Linked DNA regions of Homo sapiens. The protein of the gene in region 1 purifies or fractionates together with the protein of each later gene. This does not show direct contact. Each region holds a gene or a part of one and is shown in the gene's direction. Other genes may lie near its edges. The genes, in order: IPCEF1 and CCDC92.

Evidence for each region.
Region 2: the proteins of IPCEF1 (region 1) and CCDC92 purify together in Homo sapiens (affinity purification with mass spectrometry; one large-scale study listed by BioGRID and IntAct). This does not show direct contact.

What each region holds. Positions count from the first base shown.
Region 1 is NC_000006.12:154,346,544-154,350,361, reverse strand, and holds part of IPCEF1 (interactor protein for cytohesin exchange factors 1), read left to right. Parts: intron 1-3,818. UniProt on the Homo sapiens protein: Enhances the promotion of guanine-nucleotide exchange by PSCD2 on ARF6 in a concentration-dependent manner.
Region 2 is NC_000012.12:123,945,265-123,949,082, reverse strand, and holds part of CCDC92 (coiled-coil domain-containing protein 92), read left to right. Parts: exon of another isoform or gene 1-3,379; intron 3,380-3,818.

The sequences.
Region 1 (3,818 bases):
ATAGTGATCCCAGATTATCATGACAATTTGGTTACTTGTTAGATATGGAACATCAGCGTCTATTTGGGGGGGATATTTATTTACCTCAGTTTGTATTGAAATAAAAGTTCAAATATTCTGAAAATGATGCAATGTGATGGAACTTTGATCCAAATATAAAATCTAAGGCTGCAATTTAAGTGTACAGCAAGTGGAAACTTCTCAATAAATGGATGTTAGATCATTTTAGTGGTTCATCTGTAATCGTTGATCACTTTGATCCATAAATTTAGGCTGGTACCTGCATAAGTACTTTAATGACAGCATAAATAGCCAGGATTTCAAGCATATTCTTGAGTTTCCCTGTGACATAAGAATCTCTTAAATCCCCTTTTCAGCAGAATTTGAATTACCCTAATTCCTATTACATGATTATCCCCAGCAGAACAACATTCTTTTAACAGGTAAATATCATTATAGGAAGCTAATACATTTAATCTATGTAAAACTAAAAATATCTTTTTTCTCCTCCTCTTAATTGATCCATATTTAATTTTCTTTAGACTTGTTAATTTTATATAATCTTTTTCTAACTATGCAGTAGAAATCTGTGACTGGATAGATTTTTTCAAATTTGGACAGGGTAGAAGTTCTTTTTTTCCTGACTATTGTGAAGGAAACTGCATTCTTCAGAGTTTTATGCACTGATCTGTAACGCCAGAGAGGAATAGAACATTTAACTACTTATAGGCAAATGTACATATATTAATAGAGACTGAACCTTAGTCTAAAACAGGAAAATAGGCCAGGCACAGTGGCTCATGCCTATAATCCCAGCACTTTGGGAGTCTGAGGTGTGAGGATCACTTGAAATCAGGAATTTGACCCAGCACTTTGGGAGGCTGAGGTGGAAAGATCACTTGAGCTCAGGAGTTTGAGAACAGCCCAAGCAACGTATAGCAAGACCTCGTCTGTACTAAAATAAATAAATAAATAAAATAAAATAAAATAAAATAAAATAAAATTAGTTAAGTGTGGTAGAGCATGCCTGTAGTCTCAGCTACTCAGGAGATGGAGGCAGGAGGATCACTTGAGCCTGGGAGATTGAGGTTGCAGTAGGCAATGATCGCACCACTGCATTCATTCCAGGGTGACTGAGAGTGACCCTGTCTCAATAATAATAATAATAATAATAATAAGATAAAATAATACAAACCTCTGAGAAAGGAAAAAAGATGAAACCAACTCAAAACATTTCCCAGGAACCTTAATTTAACATTATTCACTCCTAAAGAATATAATTCTTTGTAAAGTGTCACAGTTTATCCAGAGATAAGCTGTACTTTATACAAAGTTATGTTTGAAGGAGAAAACCTTTAATTATTTGAAAAACTAAGCAAACGGCTGTAAACATGAAAACCATGCATTTTAGGCTACTTGTTTATGATTATTCTGTTTGAATAGCTCAGACTACAGCACACTATTGGATAAATCTGTAATAGTTTTATGGACTGATGAGAATATATATAATCTCATCCATTTCTTGAACATGTTTGAAGATTCTACTATTCTAATAGATTAAATGGTTGTTGCAGGAACGTTGCTGTTTATTCGCTGGGAGTGCAAGTCATTTGTAACAACTTTGTTCTTTCCACCGATTAAAAGCCTGAAGCAAATGATATTAAAGACCTTATTTTCTGGTTCCTTGTTAAGGCACAAATCCCAACCTCTTTTTCCATCCTGACAAAAAATAGTCAAGCAGTTGTTCTTACTAGTGGTTGTGAATGCTGACCATATAATATGATAAGGACCCACTTACGAATATTCAACCTTCACCAAATACTTATTGAGTACCTAATATTTTCCACGTAATGTGCCAGGTATTTCACTGCAATTAAATGGACAAGATCACCTTTGAAATTCCCCTGGAATCGTGTGAATTAGTATTGCCTCTTGGTTAGACTCAGTTATAGCCAGTCTATCAAAGAGAAGTGCCTGAACTTGAACTCTCTTGGTCAAATACACTCACAGTTTTCCAGCTAGAGCTGGATTTTACTCTGGAACACAGCTACCAGAGTTTTCCACACTTGGATTTTCAACTTGATTAATCAACTAGAGCAGCTTTTGCGTAGGTAATGGGGACTTGAGGGAGGGACTGTGGAGCAAGGTTTGAGCCAGGCACTCGAGTACTATTCAGTTTTATTTTGTGAACACTCACAAACATTCCAAAGTTATGTACAAATTAGTTGCCTTGAGAGGAACGCTGGAGTCCCAGATATTCTGAGCTGAGAAGCCAGCACGGGGAGAGAGACACCGAGTCACCAAAACACAGTAAGTGGGCTGAGCAATGAAGGCTCAGCGACTCCTGATTGCCTTGAAGTGACTTTGCTTTCAAGTTGGCATTAGCTGTAGTCACAGGGTCCTAGACATGGGGTGTAGTAATTTCCACCGGGCATTGCATCCTCTTTGTGTTCTGTGCATTGGGAGCAAGTTAGCAAGCGATCCCTCTGTCAATCTCAATGGACTTCAGGCATTGAGCACCAAACCACTGTCCACTCCCCACGAGCTCACGTTTCCTATCATTGTGGAGGTGGCCTTTTGCCAATGGATGGATGCTCCTGGCCTATGAAATATTCTAGGCAATGCCTGGAACTTTCTGGGCAGTAGGAGCCACTGAGGTGAGCCTTAGAGCAAGGCAGAAAATAGAGTCCAAGAGGACCCCTTCTTTCTATAGGCTGGTGAAAAAGTAGTCTTTAATGGCAAAACCTGCAACTACTTTTGCACCAACCTGATAATTGCAGCTTTTCCAACAGGCCATGCAGGGCTTCCCCAGCCCCACTGGCTGTGTGGCACATGGAGGTAACATGTACTGTCCTCTTGCTGTCTGCAAGGGACGGTGTTAAAGGCTTTACATTCATTATCTAATTTTTTAATCAAATAGCTCTAGGAAGTGCTGTTATTATTAACTAGTTCCCTTTCTCTGATGAGAAAACACAGGTTCAGGGAACTTCAAACCTGGCTCAAGGTCACCCAGAAATAGTACAGTCAGGGTTCCAACCCCAGCAGTTTGACTCTGGGGTCAGAATTTGAGCCTAGGCTTATTTGACCTGAGCGTCCAGTATATAGCTGTCCTGAGGGAATATACTATAATATAAGGAAAAGGATGCTACATAATTTCTTATTTTTGGATAAGGTTGCTTTGTGCTTGTCCACCTTTCCATTCCTGGAGCTGAGAATGTGTATAATCCAACCCCAGAGAGGCCAGAGGAAGCCTGTTTGGGTGAATAATGATTTTAGGAGTGCTCAGCCCAGATTTGCCTGAGCCTTGAGGAAAATCTCATTCCCAAAGACACTTCCAGATCAAAGCTGAGGAGAATTGGGGTTGAGGGTGATGGAGCATTTGTTTCTAATAATATAGATTGAAAAGGGGAAGAAAACAGAGATTAAAAAATAGGAAGGCAGAGTTTTGAGAGGATATGCTTGGATAGGGATAGAGTCTGGCCACCCAAATCTTACGTTGAACTGTAATCCAAATTGTAATCCCCACGTGTTGGGGGAGGAAACTTGTGGGAGGTGATTAGACCATGGGGGCTGTTCCTCATGTTGTTCTCATGATAGTGAGTGAGTTCTCACAAGATCTGATGGTTTTATAAGAGGCTTTACCTTGCTTTGCTCTGCACTTCTCTCTCATGCTGCCATGTGAAGAAGGACATGTTTGCTTCCCGTTCCACCATGACTGTAAGTTTCTTGAGGCCTCCCTGGCCATGCAGAGAACTGTGAGTCAATTAAACCTCTTTCCTTTATAAATTACCGAGTCTCAGGTATTTCTTCATAGCAGC
Region 2 (3,818 bases), on another chromosome or scaffold:
GAATGCTCCTTCATGTTTCTAAAGCATCTCTGATACTGAATTAAGCCTCTTGGGACCAACTCCATTTCTCCCTCTGAATTATGTGCATCTCCCGGCTGGGTCTCCTCAGCCTAAACAGGATGCCTCGGTGGCTTCAGTCATGTCACAGTACTGGGAGCATGACATCATCACAATGATTACCTCTCTTCAGTAGTGAAGGATCGCAATGGAAAACACCACTGTCTTTTCAGCCGTGAAAACTCTTTTGCCCTCAGAAAGCCAGTGATATTGTTACTCTTTTGAGCTGATGAGAAAATAATTGAGTAATCTGGATGCCATTTGGAGATGTGTTTTGTTTCCCTGGCCCCAAGTGGACCTGCCTTATTCAGGAATATCCTAACAGCTGTAGAATGCCCTGCACAGATGGCGTCTCCATGTCAGGGCCTTTTCAGTCAGCACAGAGTGTGGAAGAAGGGGAGAGCGACAGTCAGTGAAATGCCCCAGGCCAGGAGACCCTTGTCCCCCACTGTGAGGGCTCCGAGTGGCTCACCAGCGCTCACTGTGGAGCTCTGCGCGTTACATGGTCACACTCTCCCTGCTCGCCTGCCGTTTCTTCTCCAGGCTGTCTGCCCATTATAATGGGACGCTTTAAGGACGCTTTTGTATTTCTGCAGTTAACAGAGTGGATTAATGACACACAGCGTTGTTATAATTCAAAGTTGCTGATTGACCAAGGCAGTTAGAGTATGAATACTTACTAAATCATATTTAAATTTGTTACAAATGAAATGTAATACCACACTATGATAGAGATGGCTGCTGATAACATTTGTACTCCATTCCCCTCTGCCCCCGTGGGAGAGCGTAGAAGAAAATACTGACATCTACATATAGGCACATCCCATTTTGTGCCATCATGGCGGGTGAGGTGGTCATCTCATTTCGGGATGTTTTAGTATATCCCGTTTTCTTTGAGCAAGGTGTGCCTGTAAAGGAAGTGTGTCCGGAATTGGTGGGTTCTTGGTCTCACTGACTTCAAGAATGAAGCCGCAGACCCTCGCCGTGAGTGTTACAGCTCTTAAGGTGGCGCATCTGGAGTTTGTTCCTTCTGATGTTCGGATGTGTTCGGAGTTTCTTCCTTCTGGTGGGTTCGCGGTCTCACTGGCTCAGGAGTGAAGCTGCAGACCTTCGCAGTGAGTGTTACAGCTCATAAAAGCAGCGTGGACACAAAGAGTGAGCAGTAGCAAGATTTATTGCAAAGAGCGAAAGAACAAAGCTTCCACAGTGTGGAAGGGGACCCGAGCGGGTTGCCACTGCTGGCTCGGGCAGCCTGCTTTTATTTTCTTATCTGGCCCCACCCACATCCTGCTAATTGGTAGAGCCCAGTGGCCTGTTTTGACAGGGTGCTGATTGGTGTGTTTACAATCCCTGAGCTAGACACAAAGGTTCACCACCTCCCCATCAGATTAGTTAGATACAGAGTATCCACACAAAGGTTCTCCAAGGCCCCACCAGAGTAGCTAGATACAGAGTGTCGATTGGTGCATTCACAAACCCTGAGCTAGACACAGGGTGCTGATTGGTGTGTTTACAAACCTTGAGCTAGATACAGAGTGCCAATTGGTGTATTTACAATCCCTGAGCTAGACATAAAGGTTCCCCACGTCCCCACCAGACTCAGGAGCCCGGCTGGCTTCACCCAGTGGATCCCACACCGGGGCTGCAGGTGGAGCTGCCTGCCAGTCCCGCGCCGTACGTTTGCACTCCTCAGCCCTTGGGTGGTCGATGGGATTGGGCACCATGGAGCAGGGAGCGGCACTGGTCGGGGAGGCTCGGGCAGCACAGGAGCCCATGGAGTGGGTGGGAGGCTCAGGCATGGCAGGCTGCAGGTCCCGAGCCCTGCCCTGCGGGAAGGCAGCTAAGGCCTGGTGAGAAATTGAGTGCAGCGCTGGTGGGCTGGCACTGCTAGGGGACCCAGTACACCCTCTGCAGCTGCTGGCCTGGGTGCTAAGCCCCTCATTGCCCGGGGCCGGCAGGGCTGGCAGGGCCGGCCCGCTGGCTGCTCTGAGTGCGGGGCCCGCCAAGCCCACGCCCACCCAGAACTCCAGCTGGCCTGCAAGCGCCGCCGCACGCAGCCCCGGTTCTGCTTGCGCCTCTCCCTCCACACCTCCCTGCAAGCTGAGGGAGCGGGCTCCGGCCTTGGCCAGCCCAGAAAGGGGCTCCCACAGTGCAGCGGTGGGCTGAAGGGCTCCTCAAGTGCCGCCAAAGTGGGAGCCCAGGCAGAGGAGGTGCTGAGAGCAAGCGAGGGCTGTGAGGACTGCCAGCAGGCTGTCACTTCTCAGAAGCACCTAAATAGGAAGCCCATGGAAACAAAAGCTTTTCAACCCTGAAGCCCTTACATTCCTCTGGCACCACAGCTGCACTCAACAGACTGGCACCAGGCCCATTCGTGGGCCTCCAGGGTGCCAGGCACTGTGCTAGGGCTTAGGGTGCAGCAGTGAACAATCTGGAGTCTGTGCGAGGAGGCGGGAAACAGACCCACACTTACAGACCCTCACAGAGACACAAAGACTAGAACTGGGGACAGGGTGGTAATGCACCCGAGTCTGGGGGCCAGGGCTTCCGGGAGGAAGTAAACTTGTACTGAGACCTAAAGGATAAGTAGACAGTGGAGACCCAGGAGAGGTGGGTGGGAGAGAGGCCTAAGAAGAGTGTTCTGGGCAGAGGAGGAGCCATGAGAGGGCACCAGGGTGGGAGAAGCACAGCCCAGCAGGGCACCCGGAGGAAAGCTCGTGCCACCTGGAGCCCTGGGGGTAGGAGAAGGGCCAGCGAGGGTGGCGGGGCCAGTTGCAGGGCCGGGCAGACCAGTCTGATTCTCAGAGCAGTGGGAACCATTGGAGGTTTTTAAGTAGTCTCAATTTAAAAACAAGATCACTCTGCTGCCACGTGGAGAGCAGAATGGAGCAGGTAGGAGAGGACAGAGGGAGGCTTTCTGGCAGGGATTTGGGTGAGGGTGAGGACGGCCTCAGCAGCGGAGACGGGGAGAGTTGAACGGATCTGAGAGCTGCTTTCAAAGCAGGATGCCAGCAAGATCATCATGGACTGGAAATGGATGGCGGGGGATGCCAGCGTCAAGGCCACCCCCAGGTTGTGCAGCTGGGGACAGTGCTTGTGAGGGGTAGGACACTAGGCCTAGGGCAGCTCTCCTGTCATCCAAGACCCACTAAATTCTGGATCACATTTAAATGGTTCTTTCTCTTTGACAGCAAGCCACTAACATATGGGCTCTGCTTCTTCCATCAGCCAACAGAATCCTGGATTTGAGTCTGTCCTTTGAAAGCATCTCTGCTAGAGTTCCCACTTCCAAACCCCTTTCAGCTCTTCGGGATTCAGCCTCCAGGTGAGGTGCTGGAATTGATGCCAGAGTGAACGACTCCGGATTGCTGAGTGGAAGGAAAACGTAGGCACCGCTACTGACAGCTCTCAGGCGCTCCTGGGATTTTCCTTCCTTTGACGCTGAGGCTGTTCCGCTTTCAAGCGTTCTGCTTTGTGAGGGAAGGGCAAGGTCAGAAGGTGCTCACCCTTTCCACAGCAAGCACGCGGCACACGTGTGCCACACGCTGAACCTGCCTTGGTTGTAGCTGGCTCCTTTGTTAAGGTCAGCGCCCCCCAAGACCACGTGCTGTGCAGACAGTGTTGGGATCTCGGGAACTGTGGGGTTCCACTTAGAAACTAGTGTCTGGCCCAGCAGCCTACACAGGAGAGTTTGCGGTTACAGCACAGAGACGGTTTCGGGGACAGAAACATCCTTTCTCACTCCTGCCGGAATGCTGCTCACG